Regions from separate parts of the Homo sapiens genome. Here region 2 is linked to region 1. The links come from fine-mapping of genetic effects on gene expression. A gene starts in region 1. The other region holds a variant in brackets. All regions are shown on one strand. Distances are between the middles of the regions. Region 1 holds the start of NLRP3 (NLR family pyrin domain containing 3). Region 2 holds the start of LOC124904575 (a long non-coding RNA gene).

What was found.
Region 2: its variant is fine-mapped to the expression of NLRP3 in whole blood (INTERVAL, PIP 0.97).

What each region holds. Positions count from the first base shown.
Region 1 is chr1:247,406,608-247,422,839 of GRCh38, reverse strand. NLRP3 (NLR family pyrin domain containing 3) reads right to left here and starts at 6,667. Exons shown (of 10, transcript NM_001243133.2): 1 at 6,647-6,667; 2 at 3,763-4,787. The coding sequence starts at 4,039. RefSeq lists enhancers at 12,264-12,323, 12,434-12,483.
Region 2 is chr1:247,439,957-247,456,188 of GRCh38, reverse strand. It overlaps NLRP3 (NLR family pyrin domain containing 3), which reads right to left. Exons shown (of 10, transcript NM_001243133.2): 8 at 12,047-12,217; 9 at 11,368-11,538; 10 at 7,372-7,784. The coding sequence ends at 7,685. It overlaps OR2B11 (olfactory receptor family 2 subfamily B member 11), which reads left to right. Exons shown (of 2, transcript NM_001004492.2): 2 at 1,125-7,007. The coding sequence starts at 4,207. The coding sequence ends at 5,160. It overlaps LOC124904575 (a long non-coding RNA gene), which reads left to right and starts at 7,962. Exons shown (of 2, transcript XR_007067005.1): 1 at 7,962-8,105. RefSeq lists enhancers at 15,573-15,642, 15,653-15,972. The variant A/T (reference allele first, on the strand shown) is at 7,289.

The DNA.
Region 1 (16,232 bases):
GCTAAGAAAGGTCACCCTTCCCTGACCGCAGTTCCCTGCAATCCATTTTACACACGTCTTCTATTGTCAAGTCTAGATGTCTGGTTCTTCAAGAGTGAGAACGACCAGTCTATTTCGTGCCTAATCTAGTGGTTGGGAATCCTGGCTGACTTTAGAATCACCCAGGAAGCTTTAAAAATATGGACTTCAGGACTGCACGCCCAGAGGTTCTTTTTCAGTCCCTCTGAGGTGAGGCCCAGGAACCATCACATACTAAAAGCTCCCAGGTGATTCCAACATGCATCTGTGTTGAGAATCACAAATCCAAACAGTCACTAGATAGCATATCTTAAGAAGGCATTCTATAGGAGAAATTCAGGTTAGGTAAAACAAGAGTTAGTCACTAGGGGAAATATATAAGACAGATAACTTCAGGTGGGCAGGAATCTACAAGTAACATAAATGATTTTTTTTTTTTTTTTGAGACAGGGCCTCACTCTATTGCCCAGGCTGGAGTGCAATGACACAATCATGGCTCCCTGCAGCCTCAACCTCCTGGGCTCAAGTGATCCTCCCACCTCAGCCTCCAGAACAGCTGGGACTATTGACACGTGCCACCACACCTAACTAATGTTTGCATTTTTTGTAGAGACAGGTTCTCACTATGTTGCCCAGGCTGGTCTCAAACTCCTGGGCTCAAGCAATCCTCCCATCTTGGCCTCCTGAAGTGCTGGGATTACAGGCATAAGCCACTGCGCCCAGCCCATAAAAGACCTCTGACAGCTGTCTACTTGGTAACCATATCACAAAATAAAATCCAAAAAATCTAAGCCAAAACCAAAATCTTATTCTTTTTTTTTAAGAGACAGAGTCTTGCTTTGTTTCCAAAGCTGGAGGGCAGTGGCATGGTCATAGCTCACTCCAGCCTGGAACTCCTGAGCTCAAGTGATGCACCCACTTCAGCCACCTGAGTAACTGGGACTCAGGTAGGAGCCATGACAGTAAATTAGCCAAAGTCTATTACCTAAAACCTAACCCCACCCCAGGAAACAAACAAACAAACTTCTAACCCTAGTTATAACTTTTCTGCCTCAAAATCCAGATATGGAAGCAAAGACGGTGTAGTGGTTAAGAGCCAGGCTTTGATCAGAGACATGCCCTGCTTTTTACCCCAGCTCTGGTTATGGCTAGAAATAAACCATGGGCCAGTTAGGATCTCTTCCAGGCTCACCTCATTCACTTGCAGGAGGGATAATACCAGAAGCTGTTTCATGGGTTTCTTGAATGTGCCATAAAATCCATAAAAACTGCTTAGCAAAGTACTTCTACAGTTGTGATTATGACACTTTCATTTGGGTATGTGAGTATATAAGTACTGACACAATGATAATTGCTTTATTTACTTAGAGATGAGGTCTCCCTATGTTGCTCAGGCTGGTTTTGAGCTCCTGGGCTCAAGCGATCCTCCTGCCTTAGCCTCCTGAGTAGCTGGGACTACAGGTGAGAGCCATTGCAGCAACTGGTTTCTGACCTCCCCCGGCTGCACACTGCTGTCTGTTTCCCCAGTGTCATTACACCCACACTGCTGCCCTGCCTTAACATGTGTCTCCCTATCCACTGACTCATTTGTACTCCTCCTTCCCATCACCACCAGCTCTACATCATCATCCTGCAATACCCTGCCCTTCTCTGAGCCCTACCTTTGCCTAGAACACAAGACAAAAGAAAGAACCTTATCCCCAATGTGTACATGGGGATTAAGAGAATTTCTTTTACATTCCAATTCCCAAAGTGGTGGTGAAAGGAAAGGCTTCTGCCCCAAACTCCACGGTTCTTCAAGGAGAGAGGCTGCCCTCTGGGCCATAGGAAGCAGAGGCCCAAGCCTGCTGACCACACAGCAGATACTGGACAAAACATGTGGTCTGAGAAGCTGGATGGAGAATTGGAGGCAGGTCTAGGCACTGCTGAGATTCAGATAAAGAGGGACTAATCATGGCAGGTGCCCAGGGGGTAGGTACAGTCTGCATCAGCTTTTTAAAGGAGTTAGAGAAAGCAAACAGTTTGCCTCCACCTTCTCATAGCACTACCGTGAGAGGGGAAAAGAGAAAAAACCAAGACAATACAAGAAAAAAAAATTTTTTTTTGAAACAGGGTCTTGCTCTTTAGCCCAGGCTGGAGTGCCGTGGTGCAATCTCAGCTCACTGCAACCTCCACTCCCCATGTTCAAGCAATTCTCCTACCTCAGCCTCCTGAGTAGCTGGGATTACAGGTGCCCACCACCACACCCGGCTAATTTTTTTTGTATTTTTAGTAGAGATGGGGTTTTGCCATGTTGGCCAGGCTGGTGTTGAACTCCTGACCTCAGGTGATCCACCCACCTCAGCCTCACAAAGTGCTGGAATTACAGGCATGAGCCACCATGCCCGGCCATGATTTAAAAAAAAAAAAATCATACTAACTTCTGTGCATCAAAGGACACAGTTAACCAAATGAAAAGACAACCCACAGAATAGGAGAAAATATTTGTAAATCATATATCTGATATGGGGTTAATATCTAGAATACATAAAGAACTCCTACAAGGCAACAACAAAAGCCAAACCTGGTCTGAAAATGAGAAAAGAACTTGAACAGAACTTTCTCTGAAGAAGCTCTATAAATGGCCAACAAGCAGTGAAAATGTGCTCAGCATCACTTATCATTAGGGAAACGGAAATCAAAACTACAGTGAGATACCACCTCACACTCATTAGAATGGCTACTATAAAAAAGAAAAAATAAATAAAAATAACGTGTTCTTAGGATATGGAGAAATTGGAACCCTTGTGTGCTGTTGGTGGGAAATGGTGCAGATGGTATCTAAAACAGTAGAGCAGTTCTTCAAAATATTTAACAGAATTACCGTATGATTCAGAAATTTCACTTCTGAGTATATACCCCAGAGAATTCAAAGCAGGGTCTTGAAGAGATATTTGTGCACCAACACTCATAACAGCATTAACAATAACAAAAAGGTAGAAGTAATCCAGGTGTTCATCAACAGATAACTAAACAAAATTTGGTATATGGTACCATGGAGTATTTATACAGTCTTTTTTAAAGGAAGGGAATTCCGACACATGCTACAACATAGTTGAACCCGGAGGACATTATGCTGAGTGAAATAAACTACTCATAAAGGAAAAAATGCTGTATGTTTCCACTTATATGAGGTACCCAGAGTAGTAAGATTCACAGAGATGGCAAATAGAATGGTGGTTACCAGGGCTGGGAGAATGAGGCAATGAGGAGTTATCATTCAATGGGTGAGGAGTTTCAGTTTTGCAAGATGAAAACAGTTCTGGAGACTGGTTGCACAATGTGAGTGTACCTAACACTACTGAACTGTACATTTAAAAATTATTACGGCCGGGCGCGGTGGCTCACACCTGTAATTCCAGCACTTTGCGAGGCCGAGGCGGGTGGATCACCTGAGGTCGGGAGTTTGAGACCAACCTGACCAACATGGAGAAACCCCATCTCTACTAAAAATACAAAATTAGCCGGGCGTGGAGGTGCAATGCCTGTAATCCCAGCTACTTGGGAGGCTGAGGCAGGAAAATCGCTTGAACCCGGGAGGTGGAGGTTGCAGTGAGCCAAGATCTCACCATTGCACTCCAGCCTGGGCAACAAGAGCAACTCCGTCTCAAAAAAAAATATATATATATATATATATAAAGATGGAAAATTGTACACTATGTGCACTTGGCCACAATTTTTTTTAAAAGTCTTCCTTCCACTCACCCCACTTCGGCTCATCTCTTTTTGCTTTCTCATAAAGGTCTCTCCTGTTGATCGCAGCGAAGATCCACACGGCCATGGCCCACGCCTTCTCCTCCCCATTGAAGTCGATCATTAGCGTGGCTAGATCCACATGGTCTGCCTTCTCTGTCTGACCCCTCGGGAGGGGGATGCAGCCCTTCTGGGGAGGATAGTCCTCTAAGTGCATCTTAAATTTCTTCAAGTCCACATCCTCCAGGTCCTCCAGGTACCTGGCCAGCTTGCAGCGGGTGCTTGCCATCTTCATCTGCAGCTGTTTTCAGGGTCCTTAGGCTTCGGTCCACACTAAGATACCAGGCAGTGAACACGGCACACGGATGAGTCTTTTTTAAAGTCTCCACTTTGAGAGATATAAATTATCAAAAACTCAGCAAACAGAAAGAAAAAAATGTCACATGACTGTAACAAGTCAAAATCTTTAATTTTGAAAAGTTAGCCAAGGCCGGGCACAGTGGCTCACGCCTGTAATCCCAGCACTTTGAGAGGCCAAGGCAGGCAGATCACCTGAGCTGAGGAATTCAAGACCAGCCTGGCCAACATGGCAAAACTGTGTCTCTACTAAAAGTACAAAAATGAGCCGGGTGTGGTGGCGGGCGCCTGTAATCCCAGCTACTCAGGAAGTTGAGGTAGGAGAATTGATTGAACCCGGGAAGTGGAGGCTGCAGTGAGCCAAGATCACGCCACTGCACTCCAGCCTAGGCGACACAGCAAGACTCCATCTCAAAAAAAAAAAAGTTAGCCAAATGCTTACCAGAAAGTTCTCCTGTTGGCTCGATCCAGGAGTGTGTCCTGAGCCATGGAAGAAAGGTTTCCCTATGGAGGGAAAAATATGCAAACAAATCCATAAACAGGATTGTATTACAGTTTACGGTGAACAACCACTTCACGATGCCATCTTGACCCATCAGCAAGAAAATTTTTGTCCCGTTGATTACGGGGCTATGACATTGGACAAACTCTTCACTATTCCTCAACTTCAGTTTCCTCATCTACAAAATGAGAAAGCAGAAGAGAATGTTTTCAGTTCCTCCAAACTGAAGGCTCTGGCTCTTTGCTTCTGTTTTTGTGAGGGAAGAGGGATGAGAGACAATAGAAGGAGAAGGCCAGGAGGTGAGTAAGTGTGTTGATAACAGAACAGGACGTGGCTAGGGAGAGAGGAGAGAGAACATAAAAGCTTGCAGAGGAGGGGACAGTCTTTGACTGCACTTCTATCAACCAGTGGATTGAAGTGAGATGAAGCTGGGAGTGCATAATGGAGAATAATAAAAACATACATCCCTGTAATCCCAGCACTTTGGGAGGCCGAGGTGGGCGGATCACCTGAGGTCAGGAGTTGGAGACCAGGCTCACCAAACAACAGGGAGAAATCCCGTCTCTACTAAAAATACAAAAATTAACCGGGCATGGTACCAGGCACCTGTAATCCCAGCTACTCGGGAGGCTGAGGCAGGAGAATCGCTTGAACCCAGGAGGCGGAGGTTGCGATGAGCCAAGATCACACCACTGCACTCCAGCCTGGGCAATAAGAGCAAAACTCCATCTCAAAAAATAAAATAGAATAAAATAAAATAAATAAAAACATACATCCTTTAATGTCTCCTTGCAAAATTCGCAATTGTTATCATTATAATTCACATTAATTTAGAGCTTTCCACAGGCTAGGCACTCACTGATGTTTTTCCCCATCTAACCTGCACAGAGCTCTATGAGGTGCACCTATTCCTAGCCCCATTTTATAGATGCATAAACTGAGTCTTAGGGGGACTAGGAAGCCTGCCGAGGGGTTTAGAACCAGGAAGGAACAGAGCCAGGATTTTGACCAGAGATATGAGACCATGTCTTCCATCACTTGTTTCAGTCAGACAAAGACAAAGACAACAAAATAGATGACTAAAAGACACACTTCCCCAGCATTTATCACAGGTGTATCACTGCAGCATTCACCAACATAGTCTTCCCAACTAGACTGTGAGTTCCACAAAAACTAGCAATCACCTGCTGTATCTTTAGATCTTCCATATCTCCTAGAGTCCGGATGGATGAACAAGTTGGCTTTGTTTGGAATTGTTCCCTCCTTGATCCCTTGATTATACTCTATTTGGCAAAGCACCTCAACCTAAAGCCATAAATAACACTCAAGGGAGGCAGAGAGCCTGGAAAACGGTGGAGCTCTCCAAATTGGAATTTCTGTGACTGCAGTTCAATGTCAAGATGCCTCAGACTCACTCATCTCTCCCGTCCCATCTCCATTCCTGCCTATCTACTCCTCGCCTCCTGAGCCCTGCAAACCCAGCCCTGTGCATCCTGAGGTGACTGCTCTCCAGACAGCCCTATTAGCTCCGCATACCCTCCCAGCTCCTGCCCATCCTGAGGTGACTGCTCTCCAGACAGCCCTATTAGCTCCGCATACCCTCCCAGCTCCTGCCCCATCAGTCCTTCCATCTGCATCAGGATTCTGCCTTTCTTCTGTGCTCCTTCCACCCTAACACCAGCACAAAAATCTGCTGCCCTTTGGTCTTTAAGGAGGTTTGTTTCCTTCTGTATATCCCATCCATCTTCTCCCCTGGGAGGGATACTGGGCAAATCTGCTGAAGTCGTGGGTGTAAACTATGGTTGCTGCCGCTGTCCTCCCCGCTTCCCCCCGCCACATACACACACACGAACTTGCACACGTAGAGCCCAAATAATGATAAAAGAACATTCCAGAAATGTTGTTGAAGCACAACCTTGGAGACGCCAGAAGAAATTCCTAGTGCATTAACCAGGACAAGTTCTGCCCTCTGAACACAATCTCCCCCACTGCTCTCCCGGTCCTGTCGCCCACACTGCCCCGCGGAGCTGGACTTACCCAGATGCCAGCCTCAGGAACAGCTAGAGAGGAAATGCAATGAATTTATAGCAGTCGCAGCCCCAGAAGGGGCAGGAAGGATGTGGTCTCCACTTACATCAGAGCAGAGGCAGAGAGACTAATGGTTAATCACATAGCTGGATTTTCCAAATGGGATCAACAGTGTTGTCAAAACCGTGTCTCGGTTCCATACTGGGGTTCACCTTGCTCTCCTCTGAGGCACCCCACAGAAGCAGGGTGGGAGGCCAGTATGAGATGGGGCTGGGGGTCAAATCGGCAGTGCTAAATGGATGTTGCCTCTGACACTGCCCGCTGCAACGGCTCCACTGAGAGTGAGGGAAGTGAAACTAAGGACATGCCATGCGAGTGAGTAAAGAATCCAGAGCATGACCTGACCCAGCCTTCAAACTCCAGAGTCCATGCCCTGTCCTCTCACAGCAAGATGGCTGGAAGGCAGTACAGGTTCTCTCCGACATGTTCTACTTTTAAAGCACAAATTTTACTCCCTGACTCATTGACTCACCTGTTCCACTAACACTCACGGAATGGCTGGTATGTGGCAGGCATGCACACAAAGCCTCAGCTTGAGTAGCTTGAGGAGAGACACACACAGACCTACTCTGCAGCTCATGAGACGGCCGCAGGACCACAGACCGGCAAAGGCACAAGTTCAACAGAGCTTGGTGGGTGAGAGGCACTCGCTCAGCCTCTGGGTGAGTGAAAAGGACGAGCACCCAGTTCAGTGGAGGGATGTCAGCAAATGACTGGGTCTGTCTGTGCCTCATACCTGTAAAAGGGTGACAATAATTGCCTGCTACTTCTTTAGATCTTCCAAATCTCCTAGACTCAGGATGGATGAACAAGTGGTTTTGCTTGGAATTGCCCCCTCCTTGATCCCTTCATTATACTGCATTTGACCAAGCACTACATCAACCCAAATAACGGTACCTATCCTAGAAGGCTGTCAGAAAACACTGAGTGAATGGCTAAACGTGAGGCCTTTAAAACAGAGCCTGGCACAGAGAAGCTAGAATAAGCAGTTGGTTCCGATGACTACCACCTTTCTACAGAACTGCAGAGAGAATGCTCTACAACATGAGAGAGGCATCTAGTCCTGCTTAGGGGCATGACAGCAGACCTGAGTCTCCATGAACCAGGTGAAAGGTGTCATTCGGGGCTGGAGCTGAGGCAGGAGCAGCAAAAACTTCAGGTGCTGAAGCTAGAGAGAAAGCAGACCAAATATGCTCCAAAAGAAAGGAGCTCAGCCTGGGTGCAGTGGCTCATGCCTGTAATCCCAGCACTTTGAGAGGCCAAGGCAGGCAGATCACAAGGTCAGGAGTTTGAGACCAGCCTGGCCAACATGACGAAACCCCATCTCTACTAAAAATATAAAAAAAAATAGCTGGGTGTGGTGGCGGGCACCTGTAATCCCAGCTACTCAGGAAGCTGAGGCAAGAGAATCACTTGAACCTGGGAGGTGGAGGCTGCAGTGAGCTGAGATTGTGCCACTGCACTCCAGCCTGGGTGACAAGAGCAAGACTCCATTTCAAAAAAAAAAAAAGGAGCTCATTGGCTGAACCTGGGATCTTTTTGTTTTTGTTTGTTTAGTCAAGTTAATTTAGGTATAATTCAGCCGGGCGCAGTGGCTCACGCCTGTAATCCCAGCTCTCAGGGAGGCAAGAGGCGGGAGGATAGCTTGAGCCCAGGAGTTCGAGACCTGCCTGGGCAATATAGTGAGACCCCATTCTCCAGAAAAAGGAAAAAAAAAAGACAAATTTAGGTATAATTCATATGCAGTAAAAATCCATGCCTTTATAAAAACAGACCCATAGACCAGTGGAACAGAAATAAACTCAAGTATATGCAGTCAACTAATTCTTTGACAAGGTCACCAAGAAGACACAATGGAGAAAGGACAATCTCTTCAATAAAGATGTTGGCTATAGAAGTGTGAAAAAAAAATCAAGAAAAATATAAGATTTTGAAAAATTAAGCTTTTGGTGAAACTGGATTTCCACACGCAAAAGAATAAAACTTGGCACACACAAAAACCAACTCAAAATGGATTAAAGATCTAAACATAAGATCTAAAACTGTAAAACTCCTAGAAGAAAATAGAGAAGAAGCCAGGCATGGTGGCTCATGCCTGTAATCCCAGCACTCTGGGAGGCTGAGGCAGGAGGATCACCTGAGGCCAGAAGTTCACAGTCAGCCTGGGCAACATAGTGAGACTTTGTGTCTACAAAATTAAAAAAAAAAAAATTAGCCAGGCATGGTGCTGTGCACCTGTAGCCCAGCTACTCAGGAGGCCGAGGCAAGAAGATCACTTGAGCCCAGGAATTTGAGGTTACAGTGAGCTATAATGACACTACTGCATTCCAGCCTGGGTAACAGAATGAGACCCAATCTCTAAACAGATAAAAAACTAAATATAAAAAATAGAAAACAGAGGAGAAAACTTCTTGATATTAGCCTTGGCATGGATATTTTTAATGTCTCAACAAAAGCAAAGGAACAAAAGTAAAGATAAATAAGTGGGAATACATCAAAGTAAAAAGCTCCTGTATAGCAAAAGAAACAATCAACAGAGTGAAAAGGTAGCCAACAAATTGGAAGAAAATAGTTTTAAGCCATATATCAGATAAGTAGTTAATATGCAAAATATGTAAGGAATTCACACAACTCAAAGCATAAAACAAATAATCTGATTTTTAAAATGAAGAAAGGAACTGAATAGACATTTCTCTAAAAAAGAAACAAAAATGGTCAACATGTATACAAAAAAGTGCTCAACATCACTAATCATCAGGGAAATGCAAACCAAACCCACAATGAGGTACCACCTCAAACCTGTTAGGATGGCTATTAGCAAAATGACAAGAGACAAACATTGGCTAGGGCGTGAAGAACAGGGAACCCTTGCACATTGCTGCTGGGAATGCAGATTGGTGCAGCCATTGCAGAAAACAATATGGAGGTTCCTAAAGAAATTAAAAATAGAACTACCGTATGACCCAGCAATCCTTCTTCTGAGTGTGTATCCAAAGGAAATAAAATCACCACCTCACAAAGACATCTGTGCACTCATGTTCATAGCAGCATTATTCACCATGGTCCAGATAGGCAAACAACCCAAGTGTCTATTGACAGATGAATAAATAAAGAGTTTGGGGCATATATACACAATACAATCTTAGTTAGTATTAAAAATTGAGACTCTGCTATTTGCCACAACATAGATGAACCCGGTGGACTTTACACAAAGCATAATAAGCCAGGCACAGAAAGACAAACACTACATGATCTCACTCATATGTGGAACCTTAAAAAAAAAAAAAAAAAAAGTTAGGCCAGGAGTGGTGCCTCACACCTGTAATCCCAGCACTTTGGGAGGCTGAGGTGAGTGGATCACTTGAGCCCAAGAGCTTGAGACCAGCCTGGGCAAGATAGTGAGGCTTCACCTCTACCAAAAAAATGAAAAAAAGAAAAGAAAGGAGGGAGGGAGGGAAGGAAGCCAGGTGCAGTGGTGTGCACATGTCACCCCAGCTACTTGAGAGGCTGGGAGGCTGAGGTGGGAGGATTGCTTGAGTCTGGGAGGTCGAGGCTGCAGTGAGCCGAGATCACACCACTGCACTCCAGCCTGAGTGACAGACCGAGATCCTGTCTCAAAAAAAAATAGTTGAATATATAGAAACAGAGAGTTACCGGGGTAGAGGAAATAAAATGACGGTCAAAGGGTACGAAATTTCGGTTATGTAGGATAAATAAGCCGAGAGATCTAACAAACAGTGTGGGAACGATAGTTAAAAATATTATAAACCTGAAATTTGCTAAGAGAGATTTTAGATGTTTTTACCACCCACAAGAAAGATTATTATGTGAGATGGTGGCTATGTTAACTCATGTTAATTTGCTTGACTGCAGCAATCATTTCACTATGTATATCAAACTGCCATGTTATACACCTGAAATATGTACAATAAAATAAATATTCGCACCTTTTTCATGCACAGGCCTGTGAGTGCTCACAAGCATATAGCTACCCACCACCACAGCCCACACAGAGCACCTGCATCAGCTGCACATGCTCCCTGTGCAGCCTCTGTCCCCACCCACTGTGCTGCCACATAGTCAGCCTCTGTCCCCACCCGCAGCCCCACTTCTTCCACCTGCTAAAGCATTACCTTTTCCAGAGCATCACATAAACAGTGTGCAGCCTTTGGTGAGCGAGTCCGCTCACTTCATATGATGCCTGTGAGATTCAGATCAGTAGCTTATTCCTTTTTACTGCAGTTAAGTATTTCATGGGTTGGATAGGCCACAATTTGGTTTTCTATTCCCTAGGCAAAGGACAGTTGGGCTGTTTCCGTTTTTGGCAATCGTCAATTATGCCACTGTCACTCATGCAGCTGGCGAACTGGCTGCAATTGTGTAAGGACATCAGTCACTTGGGGCAGTGGGAAGTTCACGAGAAGCAGATGAGGTTTCCAGCCTTCGCTGCTTCACTCTCCGCTGAATGCTGCGACCACTCCTGTGGTCCGACTCCTTGCCTGCGACCCTCACCTCAGCTTTCCTGTGAGGCTCAAATAAAACAAGACCTGATCTATAATACATTATTGTAGAGAGGAAAAAATAAATAAAATAATACCTGACAGCAAAATGTAAACTGTACAGTAGTATTCAAATTGTAGGTCAGGCCAGTTTCAGTGGCTCACACCTGTAATCCCAACGCTTTGGGAGGTTTGAGGCAGGAGGATCACTTGAAGCCAGGAGGCCAAGAGCAGCCTGGGCAACATAGTGAGACCCCATCTCCACAAAAAATTAAAAAATAGACGGATGTGGTGGTGCATGCCTGTAGTACCAGCTACTCAGGACGCTGAGGTGGGAGGATCGCTTGAGCCCAGGAAATTGAGGCTGCAGTGAGCTAGGACTGTGCCACTGCACTCCAGCCTGGGTGACAGAGTGAGACCCTATATTAAAAAAATGCAGATTATGAATCTTGAAAAGATACTCTAATCATACATAAAAACTTGTCAATGAAAGACCACCATACTCTGTGTGTTATTATGCATTCTGAAAAAATTTTGTTTCAGATTTGGGAATATCAAAATCAACACAAATAAATAAGTCAACTCACAAAAGTAAAACGCGGTGATTTTCCATACATCATTCATGCAAAAAAAAATAATAATAATTTACTCTTGTACATTTAAGAAAAATAATTGCTTCCATTAAATACCCAAAGCTCACTTAAGTGGACTGGAACTCACAGCACTGAATTCCAAACTAAAATTGCATGAATGATTTCAAGTTGAAATCACCTGTGGTCCCCAGCTACTGGGGAGGCTGAGGTGGGAGGATCTTCTGAACCCAGGAAGTCAAGGCTTGCAGTGAACTGAGATTGTGTCACTGCACTTCAGCCTGGGTGACAGAGCCAAATCCTGTCTCCAAATAAATAAATAAATAAAAATACGCAAATAAATAAAAATTTAAAAAGAACTTAATCCCCCAATACAATAGTATTCAGGGGTGTGGTGTTTGTGGGGTGATTGAGTTTGTGGGGTGATGAATGGGATTCACACACTTGTAAAAGGGCTCCGGGTTCAAGGGGGTGCTCTCTCTTGCCTATCTGCCATGGGCCATGTGAGGACATGGCAACAAGGCACCATCTTGGAAGCAGAGAGCACTTCTCACCGGGCACCAAGGCCAGCGCCTTGATCCTGGACCTCACGGCCTCCAGAGCTCTAAGAAATAAATTTCTGCTCCTTAGAAATTACCCAGTCTCAGGTGTTTTGTTAGTACAAACGGACTAAGACACAAGCCCAAGTGGGATGATCTCAGGGGTGCTCAGCAAAGGCAGAGATCAGCCCAGAAGCCAGACATCCTCCCCTACTAGAGAGAACAGAAGAGATCGGAGGTGGGGAGTGCCAAAGTATCTGAGGTTACCAAGAAACAGACTGCATTTCAAACTGAAAGTGACTGGCTGATATTAAAAATGGCAATTTCACTTTCTCTCACCAGAAAAAATGTGACTAGCAGGAAGGGAAAAGGTATGAACAAAGACAAATTGGGTTTCAGAAAGTACAGTCATAACATTAGCGAGACTTTGTGAGTTCTTGTGAGGAGACGTGACCTTCCGTTGCTGCTGCTGCTCTTCCCTCTTTCCAGGGGTGACTGCTCCTCTGGGGCCTGGAGTGCTGGCGCTGAGTCAGCTTCCCCAGCTGAGGTGGGTTTTCCTAATGTGTCTATGACCCAAGAGTCCCAGGGGCCCCCGATTCCTCGACCTCTACACTTTCTGAGACACAGACTAAAAAGTGGATGGCCATCAAGAAAAAAGCTGTCAGTTCTTACTTTACGAAAGCCAAGTCCTTCATATAAGCATGCTATGTAATATGTTGGAATTGGCTTCTTCATCCCATTTATCTTCTCCTTTTCCTGTGTTCATAATCTGATCTCTAGAACCCACCAAGAGTGTTAGAGCCAGAGCCCCTTGTCTTGGTTCTTTGCCTCATCTACCTTTAAGGAATGCCTCCCAGTGCTCTCCAATATCTCTGAAAGACACATGCCAAGTTAAAGCAAATCGAGAGGACTTTATTGCAAACTCACAAAGAGAAGGAAAACAGGTAAGTATTCTTCATTACAAAAGTAATAGATAGTATGATTTTGTTTTTTGTTCATTTGTTTGTTTGTTTACTTGAGACGGAGTCCACTCTATTGCCCATGCTGGAGTGCAGTGGCGCAATCTCGGCTCACTGTAATTTCTGCCTCCCGCATTCAAGCAATTCTCCTGCCTCAGCCTCCCGAGTAGCTGGGACTACAGGCACCCACCACCACGCCCGGCTAATTTTTGTATTTTTAGTAGAGATGGGGTTTCACCATATTGGTCAGGCTGGTCTCCAACTCCTGACCTCAGGTGATCCACGCACCTCGGCCTCCCAAAGTGCTGGGATTACAGGCGCGAGCCACCACGCCCAGCCAATAGTATGATTTTTGTGAGGCATACATGGCTTGACTAAAAACCAGTGACTGAGTCACTTATATTTTATTTCATTGCTGAAATATAAACAGTTTCATATATGAGGGAATAAATTCAATCCCACCTACATTTTTTTCTTTTTCACAATTTTCGGTGCTTTTAAAAAATATTGTCTTCTTTTGAATACATTTTTAGTTGATTCATCTTTATTGTGAGGTATAGACACAAAATCTCAGTCTCACAGTATACTTACATTTCTAAGTTTGTTGCCAAGATGTAAAATCAGGGCTTTTACATAAACTAGTCAGATTTCAGGTTTCTGTTTAAAACTTAGAATTCTAGAACTAAGTCAACCACCATCCCTTCAACAAACGTGGCACCAGGAGCTTGTGCAGGCTGCCCCCACTGAGCATGGACTCAGGTTTTCCACAGTCCTCACCACTCCCTACTACCTCCTACTTTCCGTCCACACCTCTCATTTATATCGCCCACCGGAAACTCGAGGAATTGGAATTCACAGCACCTGACTTTCAACCTTGCCTTTAAACAAATAAATAATCAAAAAATAAACAATCAAGTTCCTTCATCAGAGATAAGGGACATTTGAGAGCAGTCAGTTATCTGCAGGAAAAAAAAAAAAAAACAAAAACGGTGATTTTAGTGCTCCTTGTCCATAACAGGTGGCTATGCCCAAGAGCCAAAAGGTAGAGACAACCCCAGTCTCCCGCAACAGATGAATGGAAAAACAACAAGGGCTATACACACACCACGGAATAGTCTAAAGAGAAAGGAAATTCTGACACACACTGCAACATGGACAAACCCTGAGGACATTTGCTGAGTGCGACAGGCCAGTCACCAAGGGACACACACTGTACGATTCTATGTATAGGAAGTTTCTACAGTAACCAAATTCACAGAAACAAAAAATAGAACCAGGGACAAAAAAAAACAGAGGGTGGGGGGATTGGGGAGAGAGGAATGGGGAATGAGTGCTTCATGAGTACAGAGTTTCACTTTTGCAAGATGAAAGCATTCTGGAGATTGGTTGTGCAACAATATGATTATTAAAAGTAAGAAACTGTATTTCGCTTTACCAGATATACCAATATAAATAATAAATGGACTGAATTCTTGAAATATATTTATAAGCATAGAGAAAAGAATGGAAAATACATACCACTTTTGCCTCCGAGGTCACCCTGAAAAGAGGTGACTGAGTTGGGAGAAGAAGTTTCTGCTTCACACAATTCTGTATCATCTGTTTTTTGCAAATAACATCAGCAATTTGTTAAAAAGTTACAGAAAAAGCTAAAAAGAGTTCCTGATAAAGAGGGCAGGGGGAAAGCTCTAGCCCCCGTGTCATTTCTAAAATCAACTACGAACAACAAGAAAGAGAAACAGAAAAGGAATCTCCACTTCTATGAAGACACCACTCAGTGGGGGACTGACCCCCAGGTGCTTGGCACCTGGGACTGGGAAGAGGAGGGCCAGGATGAGGGAGACCCTCTGTAGACCTTGGGGGTGGCAAAGAGAATCAAGGTTTTCCCAGGGCTGAAGCACAAACTAGTGGAGTCATCAACCCTGAGCCCCGCTCTCTTTGGAACCACAAGGTCAAGTCCACGGGCAAACCCCAAAACCTCTTTGGACACTGTGAGCAACAGCAGGAAGTGGGGAGGAAACACGGACGAGCATCTGCCAGAGCAAATGGTTGTCTGTTCCCAGTGTGGGAGAAACTGCAGGTCAAGACCAGCCTCAGCCATGCTGACACCAGTCACTGAGAAGTGCAAGTGAAATCACCCCAAATCTGTGACATGTAGGTTTTGGTGTGAGTCAAGGAGACTTCCTGTTAGTCTGGAGAGGACCACACCCCACAAAGAGGAGCAGAGAGCACAGGATGAAAGCAGGAGGCAGGACTCACGCTGCCTGCCCTGCCAGCACGTCCCCAGGCCTCGGCCTGGCACTGTTCCAGTGCCCGAACCTCGCTGTCACTCTGATGACTGGTGACGCGGATACATCCTTTATCAGAACAAGGACTTCGAGTGCATGAAATAAAACACAGAGATGACAAAGAGAATGGTAAAACATTTTTAAAGTTTGTAATATTTATGCACCAATTAATCATATCTAGCAGCGGGCCTAATAACTGGCATAATTTGAAAGTAGTGGTGACAGCAACTGACGTTTCAGCAAAACTGTAACAATATGAAGGTATCTAATTTCTAATGTGAAAAATGTATAGGACCTACTGATACTAATGGGCTGTGTCACTCACATTCATTAGAGAAAATAAAGAAGAGAACATTCTTCCCATCCAAACTCACAGATCTCCCCTGAATGATATCCACAGACTCCTTGGGGATATTTGCTAGGCCTTCTCCCAACTACTCTCCAAAACAGCGCTACTCCAGGAAAAATTCCATTATTTCAAGAACAGTGACCAATTTTTTTAAAAGAACCATCACGGAAAATATTAAAGATAATGTCAGAGAAGAAAACAAAAAGAGGAAAGGCATATGGCAGACAGAAAGATAATGGAGAACACTGAGTGATGACGGTATACCACAAAGCAGGCACAATAACGGCTCCCAAAGATGCCCATAGCCTAAC
Region 2 (16,232 bases), 33 kb before region 1:
ACCCTGTGGACTCATACCCCAGTCCCTGAACGAGGTGAACTTCTTAATCTTTCTGAACCTCTCAGTTTTCCAGAGTTATTGAAATGGGATATGGGAAGGCTCATATGCGGTGCCTAGTGCACAGAGAACTGGTGGGTGCTCATTCAGTGTGCACTTACTTCCCTTCTCCTCTCAATGCTAAGAATTTGTTTAATCTTTCAAATTAAAGTGTTATGAAAAATTAGACCTCAGATCCACTGTGGCAATAGGCATATTCATGTCCTCAAACCCCTTTGTACTGTGGGAGCTACAGAAGATGATGAATAGTGTTAAATTAGTGAGGGCAGTTAAAGGAAAGAAACCGGGCTGTCCTGAAACCAGAGGTGGGACATGAAGGGAAGGGAAGAACGTAAGATTCCCAAGACATTCCTGCTATTCCCAGCAGGAGGATGTGCACTTCCCCAGTCCTGGCACAGGATGAGAAAGGACTGTGCATGCACAGGGACACTAACTACATTGCAGAGGCTGCTGAGTGACACTGAGAATAAAGATGAAGAGGTGGAGTTGAGGCTGGGCTTGTGTGCTCTCAAGCCCCTGTGCCAGCTAACGTCTCGATTGTACTTGTTAGACTCCTAAGAAAAAGCGTGCCATTGAACCAGGACTGCAAATGCAAACAAATAAGGAGAAAGGGGCTCTTAAATAAGGAGAAAGGGGCTCTTTCTCTTTTTGTGATGAAAGAGTCCGTGTTATTATCAGTTCAGGAAAATACTGCTATCATTAAGCCTTGTCCCCAAGACTCTCTTGAGTGTAATCCCAATGATGGCCTCCGCAGCTGAACAGGGCCTGGACCAGGCTATCCCGGTTGTGGGATGGGAGGCTGCATTCTAGACTGAAGAAAGAGACCCTTTGGACTAATAAGCAATAAAATCCTATGACCATGTTTCTGTTTGCCCATCTCATAAGCTACTTTCTAGGAATTCCACACACTGCTGTAAATTTGATTTTCCATCTTGTGTGATGGAGTAGGTAACAATGTGTTCCGTCAAGCTTCAGCAGAGATTTCAGCAGCAAATGTCAGGGATAAGAGGTAGATGATATAGATATAGAGATATAAATATTAATCATAAGGATTATATATCCTACAGGGAATGATATATATCTAAGGGTGTATCACAGCCTGCGTGTTCACAGCCTAGCCTGCCAGCAGCCCCCAGAAGAAACTGCGGGAATTCAGCGTGAACATGATACAATCAGCAGGTAACTCTTGAGCGACGGGTTCTTACGTTTTTGGTAATTGAAACACCTAAAGATATCTTTGCCTTAAGGCCTGAGTCTCAGAAAGATGACTTCGTGTGAGGGTGAGTGAGGGGTTGAAACTGCCTGCAGAGAGGCAGGTAGCAAGTTCCAAGAGGGGTCCTGGTGGGCGTTTCTGCCCAGGACGGCAGTGGTGAGGATACAGACAGTGCGTGCCTGCAACGATGCAACATTGTGGTGGGATCACAGCATTGTGTGGGTGTTGAATTCTTTAACTTCGGTGCTGAACTAGAGTGAATGAGGAGTAGAACATGAATAGAAAGAACCTCAGTACTTGGCATCACGGTGACTGAAGGGAACTCAGCCAGAATTAAGATGAAGGAGATGGTTTGAGTCTGGGGGGATGGCTGCCAGGTGAAATTTGGGATGCCTCAGTTCACAATGTCAAAAAGGGGGTTAGAGGTCAGTGAGGAACTGACAACTGTAGATACAGCCTGAGGGATTCCGTCTGAATGCGATGGCGATGTTTGTGGGAACTACTGTGTCCATCCAGGGAAGCAAGGCTGTGCCTTGAGGGGGCACCTGTACTTGGGTAGTGGGAAGATGAAAGAAGGTCAAGGAGTGCAGAGGCTAGACACCTACGAAAGCTCCGTGTGGAAACACCTGAACAGAAGGGCATCAGATCCAGGGCATGAGGGGCAGGGCTGGGCAGTGTCCAGCTTTGCCATTGAGAAACCGTGTGTGTGTGCGTGTGTGTGTGTGTGTGTGTGTGTGCGTGTGCACGTGCATGCATGTGTGTGCACGTGTGTACGTAAGTGTGCACATGTACAGTGGACTATAATTACAAGAAAACCACTCCTCTCTAATCCCTGCCCCTTTCTATCCTGTGACCTTCCTCTCCCTCATCTCCCCTTCCCAGGAACTTCTTTTGTCTCAGTCGTTTACGCGACTGCCCTTGCTGCTCCCCATGTCACCAGCTGCTCTTTTTTTAAAGCAAAGTTCTGGAGAGAATAGTAGTGAAGAGCAGGAGTTTGGCTTTCAGTCCTGGCTTTACCATTTGCTGCCGTGTAACTAAGGTAGACCAGCTGTCCTCCCGAGTCGCTCAGTCAATTAGGGGTGAAAACATGGACCTTGCTGAGATATTAAGGCAACATCAAGTTATTATTACAGTACCTGGCTCACAGTGAGTGGTAAATAACTTGTCTTTATTATAAATTGCCGCATACATTTACCCCTCTATCTTTCTTGCTTCCTTCATTCTCTCATTTCTTTCTTCACTATCCCTACAACTTCTCCCTTTTCTCCCAGTTTAGGCTCTGAAAAGAAACTCTGGAATCAGAAATCTCAGAAAGAGAAATGTCATAATTCCTTTACTTCTTAATAATTAGACTTAAAAATGTGCTAGCTTGACTTTGCTCGGCCACAGCTCACTGTTTTGACAGGCATCTTGAGCTCGTTAGAGATAAGATCACATTCTGTGAAGTTTATTTCATAAGTATTGTTGATAGAATCTGGGAGGAGATACGATAATTGAATGTTTCACAAGAATATTGGCAACTTTCTGACAAAACGTGTGTGGTTTTGAAACTAGAGAAGCAGGAGGGAAAAACTGAACTTATTCCTCCATTGAAACCCTGGAGTTTGAGTTGTTTTCCAGTAACAGTAGAGTTCTTCAGAACATCAACTGGGGCAGCAGGGAACACCTGTTGCAACATGTAAGCTGAGCAGATCTCCGTTAGTTTTACAGTCTATGCATAAGGTACCAAATCAAGAATAAAAATCCTTCATAAATTATCTGCTTACAGGATTTATTATGAATAATGATTAATTAATTATTGTTTATTAATAATATTTTTCAATCCTATCATGGAGCATAACATCCCCATCAGGAACTGGAAGGTGTGCAATGCTTGAGCGATTGTAGGAGGTGAGAAGCCAATGGTGCAGTCGAAAGGACCCACGAATCAGCAGGTGGCAACCCAGTTGCTTCCTAACAGCAATGGTTTCAGAAATCAAATTGGCTGTTTTCTATCACTGAGAGGTGACAGCTGCTCGGCAAAGAAATTGTGCAGGAAATTGGAATGTCACTCAAGCCATCAGATAAAACCTAGCCCTAGAGGGCAGTCTGATCTTTCCGTAGACAATTCCAGGGGCTACCTTTCTCACGCCAATCAAGAGCTTTCTCCCTGTGCTCAAAATTCCATGGTCTGGGGTCTCATTAACTACCATGACCTATTCAGGGGCTGAAGTAACGTATACCTTGGCTCTTCCACTCCAGAGACTCACAGGACCTAGAATTGTGCTGCTTTTACTGCCAGTGTGAGTGACAGGGCTGCCTGTGCGTGTGTGGTCATGACAGCGGAGATCAGCATGAATCCGGGAGCTGGATGCAAGCGTGAGCCAGTGACGGGGGGTGGTCCTATCAATACAGCCCCCAGCTGCTCACAAAGCCCTTCTGCTTGCTTTATGTCACCGCCTGCCTCCCTCCTACCACTACCTCCCAAAATGGGAAAGCCTAAGAAGGTGGACAATTCCTTGTCGATGTGGATGTAGAGAGAAATCAAACACTCTGACGGTGATGGGAGCTGCAGCACGCTTCGCTCTACCTGGAACATAATTGTCATTCGTGAGGTATTCTTCTCACATACTTAATGTCTCTATCGTCCCCAAGTCTTGGCAATTGAAGGAGGTATTTCTCCCCATTTTACAGATGCAGAAGTTCAGGAATATTAAATGGTTTAGTTGCGGCCACTGAGTAGGAAGGAGAGCAAAGACACAGAGGCTGCTACTGGGGCTCCTGGTTCTGACCCTTCCGCATCCCAGCGTCTCCACAGAGGTAAGGAGAATCAAACAGGCTATCACCTGGGAAAGGAAGAGTGGATGCAAGAGGGAGGAAAGTGATCAATTCCTCTTCTCAGGTATTATTCATTCCAATTTTCTCAATTTGCCACAAGTGCCAGAAAATGCCGCAACATGAAAAGTGACAACCATAGCTTCTTAGGGGACTCCCCTAAAGCCTTCATCCTTCTGGGTGTGTCTGACAGGCCGTGGCTGGAACTCCCTCTCTTTGTGGTCCTCCTGCTGTCCTATGTGCTGGCCATGTTGGGGAACGTCGCCATCATCCTGGCATCCCGGGTGGATCCTCAACTCCACAGCCCCATGTACATCTTCCTCAGTCACCTGTCCTTCCTGGACCTCTGCTACACCACCACGACAGTCCCTCAGATGCTGGTCAACATGGGCAGTTCCCAGAAGACCATCAGCTATGGAGGCTGCACTGTGCAATATGCAGTCTTCCACTGGCTGGGATGCACGGAGTGCATCGTCCTGGCCGCCATGGCCCTGGACCGCTACGTGGCCATCTGCAAGCCCCTGCACTATGCCGTTCTCATGCACCGTGCTCTCTGTCAGCAGCTCGTGGCTCTGGCCTGGCTCAGTGGCTTCGGCAACTCCTTCGTGCAGGTGGTCCTGACGGTGCAATTGCCATTCTGCGGGCGGCAGGTGCTGAACAACTTTTTCTGTGAGGTGCCGGCCGTGATCAAGCTGTCGTGTGCTGACACCGCTGTGAATGACACCATACTGGCTGTGCTGGTGGCCTTCTTCGTGTTGGTGCCCCTGGCTCTCATCCTTCTCTCCTATGGCTTTATTGCCCGGGCAGTGCTCAGGATCCAGTCCTCCAAGGGACGACACAAGGCCTTTGGGACGTGTTCCTCCCACCTGATGATCGTCTCCCTCTTCTACCTACCTGCGATTTACATGTATCTGCAGCCCCCTTCCAGCTACTCCCAAGAGCAGGGCAAATTTATTTCTCTCTTCTATTCCATAATCACCCCCACTCTCAATCCCTTCACCTACACCCTGAGAAATAAAGATATGAAGGGGGCTCTGAGGAGACTTCTGGCCAGGATCTGGAGGCTCTGTGGATGATGAGGACATGAGATGTAGCATCTCCATCAATTAAAGAACACAGCACAAGTCTATTGTGCACTCAGAGCATCTTTCACTTAAGGAGTTAATACCCAGAGAGCTCAAAAACCCTGTCTTCAAACATCTCACTTCCTGTTATAATGCCCCAAATCCCATAGCGACAAAGTTCATTTTAAACGTATAATTCTAAGAGGCCATATATTTTTAAGCATTGTTTAAATAGACTTCAATAAGTATGTGTGGAATTATTTCACTTCCAATTTCCTGATTCTTTTCTCTTTTCCTCTTCCTATATTTCTTTTATTCTCTCCCCATTTGTCTCTTTTCTATTACTCCTAAGTATACACAAGATGAAGCTGAAATACAATCTTATTTTACTTACAATGAATAAGTGTTTTTCTCCATATACTTAAATCTCCACAAATTTTACACGACTTTTTCAGACAATTCCAGGAATGAAGTAGATTGCTATCTTCTTCCTGTGATTTTGATTTTTTTTTCTCTGTAGTTCACATTTTCTTCTATAGAAAGTTTTTCCATGAAATGTAAACTAGTACAAACACTAGTACAACCACGATGGAAAACATTGTGGATCCTTAAAGAACAAAAAGTAGATCTACCATTTGATCCAGCAATCCCACTACGGGGCATCTACCCAGAGGAAAATAAGTCATTATACGAAAAAGATACTTGCTCATGCGTGTTTATAGCAGCACAATTTGCAATTGGAAAAATATGGAACCATCTGGGCGCAGTGGCTCATGCCTGTAATCCCAGCACTTTGGGAGGCCGAGGCGGGTGAATCACAAGGTCAGGAGTTCAAGACCAGCCTGGCCAAGATGGTGAAACCCCATCTCTACTAAAAATACAAAAATTAGCTGGGCATGGTGGCACACGCCTGTAATCCCAGCTACTCAGGAGGCTGAGGCAGAGAATTGCTTGAACCCGGGAGGCGGAGGTTGCAGTGAGCCGAGATCGCGCCTCTGCACTCCAGACTGGGCGACAGAGCAAGACTCCATCTCAAAAAAAAAAGAAAAAGAAAATGTGAGATATATACCATGGAAAAATACTATTCAGCCATAAAAAGGAATGAAATAATGGCATTCTCAGCAACCTGGCCAGTTTTAATGTCCTAATGCCCAAAGGTTCTCTTTCTCTCTTTCAAGCTCAGCTATGTGTTTCTGATTACATTATTTATATAGGTTATCAAAGTGTTTGTAGCAGGAAGGCAGTCGGTAATAGTTCACCAAGATGCAGAAACCCAGTCTCCAGTTGGTGCTGCTCAGAAGTGCTAACAAGACAGAGTTTGCAACAGAATGTAAATCTCATACTGTTTCCCTTATAAAAATAGTCTTCAGGGTTTTTTTTAAATGTCAGCTCATCTAAAAGGTATGTTTAATAATGTGATTGTTTTACATTCTTATACAAGCTCCTTATATCGACAGTTCATAGACTACACTTTGAGTAGCAAAGTGTGGCTACTTTGATGGCTAATTGTACAGAGGAAATAGTATTTCCATCCTGAGCAATTCCATGCGGTTTAAGAGTTGTCCATGTGTAGAGAAGCAATTAGTAAATATTTCCTTATAACTTAATGCTCTGTGAAGTATAATAGATGAACTGTTCCTCGGATGGGATAAATCCAAAATAAGCTGTTATCAACTGAAAGCAAGATGCATCTTCTACATAATACTTCTAGTTAGGAGCGCAGGCTCTGATACTCTCAAACCTTTCCCTCCACGATTTTCAATCTCCTATCCTATCAAAGATGAAATTCCACTCATTACAGTTAGAGTGAGGTAACGTTTTAAAAATTATCTACAATGGAATCATTTGCCAAAGTGACTTTTAAAATGCACCAAACAATTTAATTTATCTTTAGTGGTTTAGAGAAATAATTTGAAAAATTTCTAGGTACTCTTTTTTAAAATTAAGAAAAGGAATCAATTTAATTAAATACCAAAAAGTTTTACATATTCCTGAATTTTCAACCAGCTACAAAAAGCATGGATTTTTCTTATTAGAAAACAAAACTGTTACAAAAAATTTAAATAAATAAATAGCTGCCATAAAATTTCAACATAATATATAGTCAACTAGTTCTGTGTTATGGTCAGTTAATAGAAAG[A/T]TAGCGGGAATGATGATATGAGCAAAAGTAAACAGAACAAAGAAGAAAAAAGATAGGAAAAAGAAAGTTAGACAGAGAAGAGAAAAATAAAGAAAGTGCTTTATTGAATGAGCTAATTACATGAGGTCACCAAGAGGAACATCCTCTAACTGAGGCGCTGTGATGACAACAACACCCGATGCTGTCATTGTCCTGGTGTCTTCCTCACCCTGGCGTAAAGGAGATGCCCAAGCTCTGCACAGGAAGGCATCGTCGGCAAGCTCTCTTCTCCGACACTCCACCGGAAGGATCACAGAGCTGTGGTCTTGGCCTGGATGGATCGCAGCTCTCTCCACCTGAGGGCCCCCAGCTGGAGGGACCGGAGAACACTGGCGTCTGGCAGCCCCGTTTCCACTCCTACCAAGAAGGCTCAAAGACGACGGTCAGCTCAGGCTTTTCTTCTTGAAGTGTTTCTAACGCACTTTTTGTCTCATAATTGAAATACATTTCAGACAACCTGTAAAAGCAAATAGAAAGCCTGGGTTGCACTCTTCAGATAACTCTGTCAGAGTCGTTAACCTTAAAAGTCTCATCTCTTCATTTCCCTAAACTCCACACACTTCTAAAATGTAAAAAAAAAAAAAAAAAAAAAAGAGGGACCACAACTCCCAGAGTGCTCCGCGTCCTCGCCGCCGTCGCCGCCGCCGAGACCAAGATGGCCGCGAGACTCCGCACCTTCTTCAAGAATGCCTGGGCCAAGGAGCCGGTGCTCGTCGTGTCCTTCGTCACTGGGAGCCTCAGACCCCCAGGACCCCAGCCTGGAGTGGCTGAAGAAACTGTGAGCACCTCCAATGACAGAGGAGGCCCCTCCCACGGCTCCCAATAAAAATGTGGGGAAAAAAAAAAAAAAGCTCTAAGTGCCCAATGTGGTTCCTGTTATATTTTTAACTATCTAGTTGGGAAAATGTTAAGCATACATAAAAGTATAGAAAATAGTATAATGAACCCCCTGTGTCCATTACCCAAGTTCGACAATTAAACAGGTCATGTCAACTTGTTTCTTCTATTGCCCACCCACTCCTCCCACCCATGGATTATTTTAAATACTGCATTTAATGCATCTATCAATAATTCACTTTGTGACACTAAAATATAATTACAATGTCACTATCACACCAAAATCGTTTAACAATAATTTCTTAGTATCACTGTATGTCCAGTCAGCATTTACGCTTCCTCAACTGTCTTGTAAATTTTTTTACCTTATGTTCATTTAGTCACTAACCTGATCAATTCTACACATTGCATTTGCCCAGGATGCCTCTCACATCTTCGATGTAAGTTCTTCCTCCTCTTTAATAAAGTTTCCCTTGCAACTTAACTAATAAATCCACCCATTTGTCCTGCACCATTTATAACCATCTCAATTTGGTGGTGTTATATACTGAATGTTTGTCTTCCTTAACAATTCCCATGATGAAGCCCGAACCCCTAATGTACGGTACTTAAAGGTGAGGCCCTTGGGAAGTAGTTAGAGTTAGATGAAGTTGTGAGGGTGGGGCCCTCAGTATGGGGTGAGTGCCCTTACAGGAGAGATATCAGAGAGTTTGTTCTTTCTCCCCTGTCTTCTCTCCCTTGCCTCCCCTCCCTCCATGCAATCACATAACAAGAAGGTAGCCATCTGCAAATCAGGAAGAGGACTCTCGCCAGCAACCAAATTCATCAGAGACTTGATTTTGGACTTTCTAGCCTCCAGTATTGTGAGATAATAAATCTGTGTTTGAGTCACACAGTCTAAAGCAGCTTGTTATCGCAGCCTGAGAAAACGGGTTGATTGCATTCATGGATTCTTCAATCTATTTTGAGCCTGTCCCTCAGCCTGGGTCCAGAATGTCCCTCAGGGCTAGGTCAGTGATGCTACATGTAGCAGTGTCCCCAGCTTTGACCTGACCAATCCTTTGTTTGTTCCCCCATCTCTCTTAGCTCTGGGAATATTGGCTTGTCCTGCAGCAAATGTGCTCCATTATGTTGGCACAAGGATGCAAGGCTGATTCAAACTTGTATTTATTCAAACCTGCATTCCAACAAGTTCTCAGCCTTGAGATCATTAATATGGACAGAAGTCCCTGGACTAATGGAATTTATATTTTGGGAGCAGAGATAGATAATAAATAAACAAGAAAATGACATAGCACATAAGATGTGCTACACTGCAGAGGAGAATGAGAAGAGAAGAAAAAGTGCTTCTATTTTCAGTAGAATAGTCAAAGACAGCCTCGCAGAGAAGACCTTTAAGCAGAGAATTTAGGAAGGTACAGGGAATAATGCAGGTGGATACTGAAGGGGAGAGAGTTCTAGGCCAGAAGAAAAGCAAGTGCAAAAATCCAGAGATGACAGTGTTCTTGCAAAACAGCAAGGAGATCACTGTACTGGGGCAGAATAAGCAAGGGTTGGGAGAAGCGGAATCTTCGGAAGCAGGAGAGGCTGGATTATGTGGGGCATGGAAGCCACCATGAGTTTGTTGCTCTGATTATGAAAGTGATAAGAAGACGATGTTGACAAGAGTGATATGATGCGAGTTACGTTTTAGCTGAATCCCTTGTCTGCTAAAATCAGAATAACAGATGCAGGGTGACCTGTCAGAATGCCACCATGACAATCCAGACACCAGGTGATGGTGGCTTGAGCCAAGGAAGAAGCCGTGAAGCTGGCCTGAAGTGGTCAGGGAGTGGCCAAGCTGGGAAGGCAGAGCTCACAGGATGTGCTGACACATTGGACATGATTATAAGGAAAAAGAGACAGTGACGACAGAACCAGAAATGTTTTGGCCCGAGCAACTTGGAGGAAGTGACCATCGACTGAAATGGGGAAGAATCAGGTTTCGGGTAGAAGAGAGTAGCAAGGGTGTGGATCTAGATGTGACGTTTGAGAGGTTTATTAAACCTTCAAGAAGAAAGATCAGCCAAGCACGGAGACACAGAATTTATGGACATATAATCTGGAGGCCACAGCACACATATCATGAAGCCAGAAGACCAGATAATTTAAATGAGGGAGAAAGTGTAGGGAAGAAAAATTAGCCCAGCGACTAAGCTCTGAGGATTCAACACATAAGGGTCAGGATGATGAAGAAGAGGCCAGAAAGGAGACTGAGTAGAAGGATCTGATGAAATAGGAGAAAACCCAGGAGAGCATGTTGGCCTTAAAGCCAAGCAGTGAAAACGTCTTCAGGGAAAAGTGCAATCATCACGGCTGACAGAACCGTGGGACTCGCCAGGAAGCTCTTGCTAGAGAGGAGACGACTACCTCAGTAGTATCACAGAGGTGGGCTGGCAATATCCTGACACACTGTCGAATTTCGTGTAATTTCCCATCTTGCTATTCCTGGAGCACTCTTTTCCCATTTAGAAATCCTCAGAAACCGCCAGGCACGGAGGCTCACACCTGTAATCCCAGCACTTGGGGAGGCCGAGGCAGGCAGATCACGAGGTCAGGAGATGGAGACCATCCTGGCTAACACAGTGAAACCCCAACTCTACTAAAAATACAAAAAATTAGCCGGGTGTGGTGGCAGGCGCCTGTGGTCCCAGCTACTTGGGAGGCCGAGGCAGGAGAATGGCGTGAACCCGGGAGGCGGAGCTTGCAGTGAGCCGAGATCATGCCACTGCACTCCAGCCTGGGCGACAGAGCAAGACTCTGTCTCAAGGAAAAAAAAAATAAATCCTCAGAAACAAAACAACAAGATCCCCACTATGTAAAGACCCTTCCAATTTGGATGACCCATAGACGAGTTCTACGAAGTTCGGTTCCTTGTGTAGAACAGAATCCTCCTTGGCCATGATCGCATGAGGGCTTGTGTTTCTTTGGGGAATGTGGGTGAAATCCAGCTTAGCCTTGGTGATTCTAACCATCTCAGTGAAGTGGAATGTGTAGTTTAACCCCATATTCTCTATTTTAAAATATCCACCACAACTGACCCAGGCCCAACCTAATCTTGAGTGGCTGCAAATGAAGCGAGAGCCATCCTGGATTTTGATAACAGTCAACGTTTCCTGAGAACTCAGAGTCCCACCACGGGCATCTCTGCAGAGCACACTCACCCCAGGTTCTGCAGGAGGCAGCTCTGCTGTTTCAGCACTTCACAGAACATCATGACCCCCAGGTCGCCCAGGTCATTGTTGCCCAGGCTCAGCTTTCGCAGGCTCTGGCTGGAGGTCAGAAGTGTGGAAAGATCCCAGCAGCAGTGTGACGTGAGGTTGCAGTTGTCTAATCTGCAAAAAGGGGGTGATTTAAAGAAAATGTCCCCTTAACCATCCCCCTAGCTCCCCAAGATTTTAGCATCTTAGCCTGTCTTGTTTCAGGTGGAAAAAAAAAAAGCACAGGAGCACAGGACTAACTAGCTTCAAGCAGCCTTGTATGCTGGTAATTATTCTTCTCTCTCTTTTTCAAATCCACTGCATTGCACAGATCAAATTAGTAACAGTGGTTTGTTCATTGATTTACCAAATTCTGTGCCTTTCCCTACATTTCCATAAAATGTAAGTGTCATACTGCCCTCCTTGTTTTGTGGTACAGAAAACTGTGATGGTAAGGACTCAAGTTCCTACATCTATATCATCTGGAAGGACTCCTCCCAGTCCCATGATCCTGTAACAAGGCAAACACTAAGAAGACACCTCACTTCTAAGATACAGATTATCTTGTGGCCACTCTGCCTAAACGTCCCTCCACCCTTGGCCACCATGTGTTCTCATTGCTGTAATAAACCAAAGGACTTACTCCAACACCTGAAGCTTGCAGTCGGGGTGCAAGAGTCCCTCACAGAGTAGTTTGATCCCCTTGTCTCCGAGAGTGTTGCCTCGCAGGTAAAGGTGCGTGAGATTCTGATTAGTGCTGAGTACCGAGGACAAAGCTGAACAACAGACTGACGTAAGGCCAGAATTCACCAACCTGTAGAAGGACAGGGAGAAGAGTCCTCAGTACCCAGCTGTTCCCCAACATTGTGCAGCTGCTTTGACTCAGTGCCTCGTCCTCTCTCAGCAGCTGCAGCCTTCAGCTCAGAGAGCAGGAGCCAGCATCTCAGATATGATCTGGGGAGAGCAAGACCTGCTGTCTCTGGCTGTCACAGGAGACACAAATGATGTCTCAGCAGATGCTTTGCTGTATGAGTCCGACAGAAAGAGCCAAGGCAAACTGAGCCAGTTACCCCATACTCCTCCTCCTCCTCACACAGCTTTCCTCCGGCCAGGAGTGCTCCTCAGCACCACTTCTTCCAGAAACACATCCCAGTGGTTATCCTCAACTAATAATCCCCGTAACACTGCAGACACCCACACTGCAGGGGCCTTTTTTTTTTTTTTTAAGAGAGACAGGAAAAAAAAATCCTCCTCATGGGAAGTCGGTGCTGATTTAAACATCAAAGACAACAGGTGAACGTCCATTGTGACCTTCTAAGCTGTAGCTAGGGCTGTGACAGGAACACGGCGGGGCCCTTAGCAATTGCCACCTCCCGCCTTCCTGCGCCCCCAAATGCCCCTTTCACATCTTTCTCGCTGCAGCCCTCAACCACGTTGGAGAGGTGGGAGGATCGCTTGAGTCCAGGAAGTCGAGGCTGCAGTGAGCCATGATTGCGCTGCCACACTCTAGCCTGGGTGACAGAGTGAGACCCTGCCTAAATAAATAAATAAATAAGGCCAGGTGCAGTGGCTTATGCCTGTAATCCCAGCACTTTGGGAGGTCCAGCACTTTGGGAGGGTGGATCACGAGGTCAGGAGTTCAAAACCAGCCTGGCCAACATGGTGAAAGCCCATCTCTACTAAAAATATAAAAATTAGTTAGGGTGGTGGTGGGCACCTGTAATCCCAGCTACTTGGGAGGCTGAGGCAGGAGAATTGCTTGAACCTGGGAGGCAGAGGTTGCAGTGAGCCGAGATTGCCACTGCACTTCAACCTGGGCAACAAAGTGAGACTCTGTCTCAAAAATAAATAAATAAATAGAAAAAGCCAGGCTCTTGCTCAGTCACCCAGGCCAAGTGCACAGCTCACTGCAGTCTTAAACTCCTGGGCTCAGACAATCCACCCACCTTGGCCTCCCAAAGTGCTGGGATTACAGGCATGAGCCACTGTGCCTGACCCAGAGACCAGTCTTATTTGATTATTATATCAACCTGGCAAGGAAGGAGTGCAGCTAAAACTATTACATACATTTTACATATTAGAAATCTAAGGCTTATAAAAATTACATGTTTCTCTCAAGGCCACAGAGCAGGTGTGTGGTGGGGAGGGATCCAGACCTGGACTTTCCACCTTTTAGTCTCATCTTCTCCCCACTGCCCTTTCTGTCCACCTCTCTCTTCCTTCTGCACAGCAAAAGGCCTTTTAGAGCATAAAACCCCAAAAATGCATCAATCTCGATGGAATTAAGAGTTTTGATGTACTATTCTTGAGTCAAATTAAGCCCATTCTATCACCCAGGAAGAGCATAAGAGCTCTAAAATCACTGGTGGCGTAATTCCTAGGAGCACAGATGCTTCTATTCCATGAAGCCAGGAATAGCGCAGGTGATTGCCTCCTTCCTGCCAGAGTCCTTGGCAATGGCATGTTTTTTAAGCTCTTTGGTGTCTACGAGGCAGGAAAAATAGAAATACAGAAAAAGTGTATTCAGACAGTAAAGCATGAACAGATGACCAGCAGGAAAAAGTGATTATCCATCCACTGGTTTCTATCTTCCCAATTAAGGAAGAGTCAAACTGAAAAGACACAGTAAGTAAGACTAATAGGCAAATGAAGCCCAAGAGAGACAGACAAAAACAAAGCAAGTTTTGAGTGGCTTCTACTAAGCTCTCATCCCCGGTAAGAATTCTATCAGAGGGTTGTTGTTAATTAACATGCAGAAGGGATTAGTAGCATTCCTGGCAAAGGCCAGGGACATTCTAGTAGAATGGGGATGGTCTTCAAAGAGGAAAAGAGAAAATATTTTTTAAATTATGTAATTAAAGTTATGCAGGCTTTACCACTATTTCCAAAAAGGAGTAGAATGGATTATTCAACAGATGTTTGGGGAGCACTACACAGTAGTAGTAGAAATTGCAACAGACGGTGCAGTTTTGTTAAGAAAACGTCATATCCAAATTGTGAAAATGCTGGTAACTATTAAGCAACGGTTACACTGAACACATAATAAAATGTTTAAAGAATCAAACAACCATGTCCCACCAACCAATCCTTGGATTAGAGGAATGTGATTGACATCTCGATTTCAACCAATCCACCTAACTGAGCTCTACATTTACCAAGCACGGATATCTTGCCATGTACTGTATTAAGTTAATTGGTTGGGGATTTTTATTTATTAACTACCTGCCTATGTCACAAAACTGTCTCATAATGAAAACTGAATCCCAGTGCTTTGGGAGGCCAAGGTGGGAGGACCACTTGAGGCCAGGAGTTTGAGACCAGCCTGGGCAACATAGCAAGACCCTGTCTCTACATAAAAAATTTTAAACATTTTAAACATTACCCAGGCATGGTAGTACACACCTGTAGTCCTAGCTAGTCAGAAGGCTGAGGCAGGAAGATTGCTTGAGCCCAGGAGAGTTCAAGGCTACAGTGAGCTATGATCCTACCACTGCACTCCAGTCTGAGCCACAGAGCAAAACCCTGTCTTAAAAAAAGAAAAGAAAAGAAAGGAAAATAAGGAAAGGAAAGGGGAAAGGGAAAGGGGGGGGGGAGGGGAAGGGAAGGGAGAAAGAGAAAGAAAGAAAGAGAGAGAGAGAGAAAGAAAGAAAGAAAGAGAAAAAGAAAAAGAGAGAAAGAAAGGAGGAGGAGGAAGAAGGAAGGAAGGAAGGAAGGAATCTGAAGAAGAAGATCAAACATTTTTTGAGTATTTATTGTGTGCTTGACATGGATGACGACTTTAAACAGGGTTATCTCATTGAATGATCACAACCTCAAGATGGGAATGTTAGTTTTATCCCTGCTTTTAAATGGACAAAATGAGGATCACAGTAATTAAAAAATAAGTAGGAGCTTCTTAGATGGATAGTAGAAAGTGGGAAAGTGGGGGTAACCTTCCAGGCAAAAGGAAAAGAGTAGCAAGAATAAGGAAGATTAAAAGAACCACCAAGATGTTTCAAAACTAATTCATAGCTGGGCACAGTGATGTCCACCTATAGTCCCAGCTACTTGGGCGGCTGAGACGGGAGGATTGCTTGAGCCCAGGAGTGCAGATGAGATCAGGCACTCTGGGTGGTATGGCTGTAGATGAACCCAGGAATTCAAATTCAGCCTGAGCATCATAGCAAGTCCCCATCTCTAAAACAGCAAAACAAAACTCATCCAATATGACTCAAAATGGAGTGCAAGGTATGGCAGGAGAGAGGGCAGTATCAGGGACAGCCTTGTGTGCCAAGCTAAGATGTCACTCTGACTGCAGAGAAGAACTTTTGAAGATTTTTGAACAAAGGGTCAATATTTTCAAATTTGCATCTTAAAAAGTTCCCTCTGGTGTAGTGATGAGTGGTAGAGGGAACCGAAAGCAGAGCATTTAGGACCGTCCCCCGTTTACTCACTCAGCAGCCTCCTGGAAAGCCCCACTATTCAATGAGGCAGGAGGAAGAGGGCAGGAGCAGGTCAGAGAACGGGGGTGGAAGGTGGGGTATGATAATTAAACCAATGTTGCAAATGCTCAGCATGTGTGACCCTTGAGCAGTATTGAGACAGGCAGTACACAATATGCAGCCAGAGATGAGGACCCAAAGTTCGAGAGAAAAAAATGTAGCTATACCTAACACATAGGCTATACCTAACACATAGGCTATACCTAACACGTAGGCTATACCTAACCCATAGGCTATACCTAACACACAGGCTATGCCTAACCCATAGGCTATACCTAACACACAGCCACATGTATGGCTGTACCTAACACATAAAATGCATAAAAGTCTCGACTGATTAATGCCACT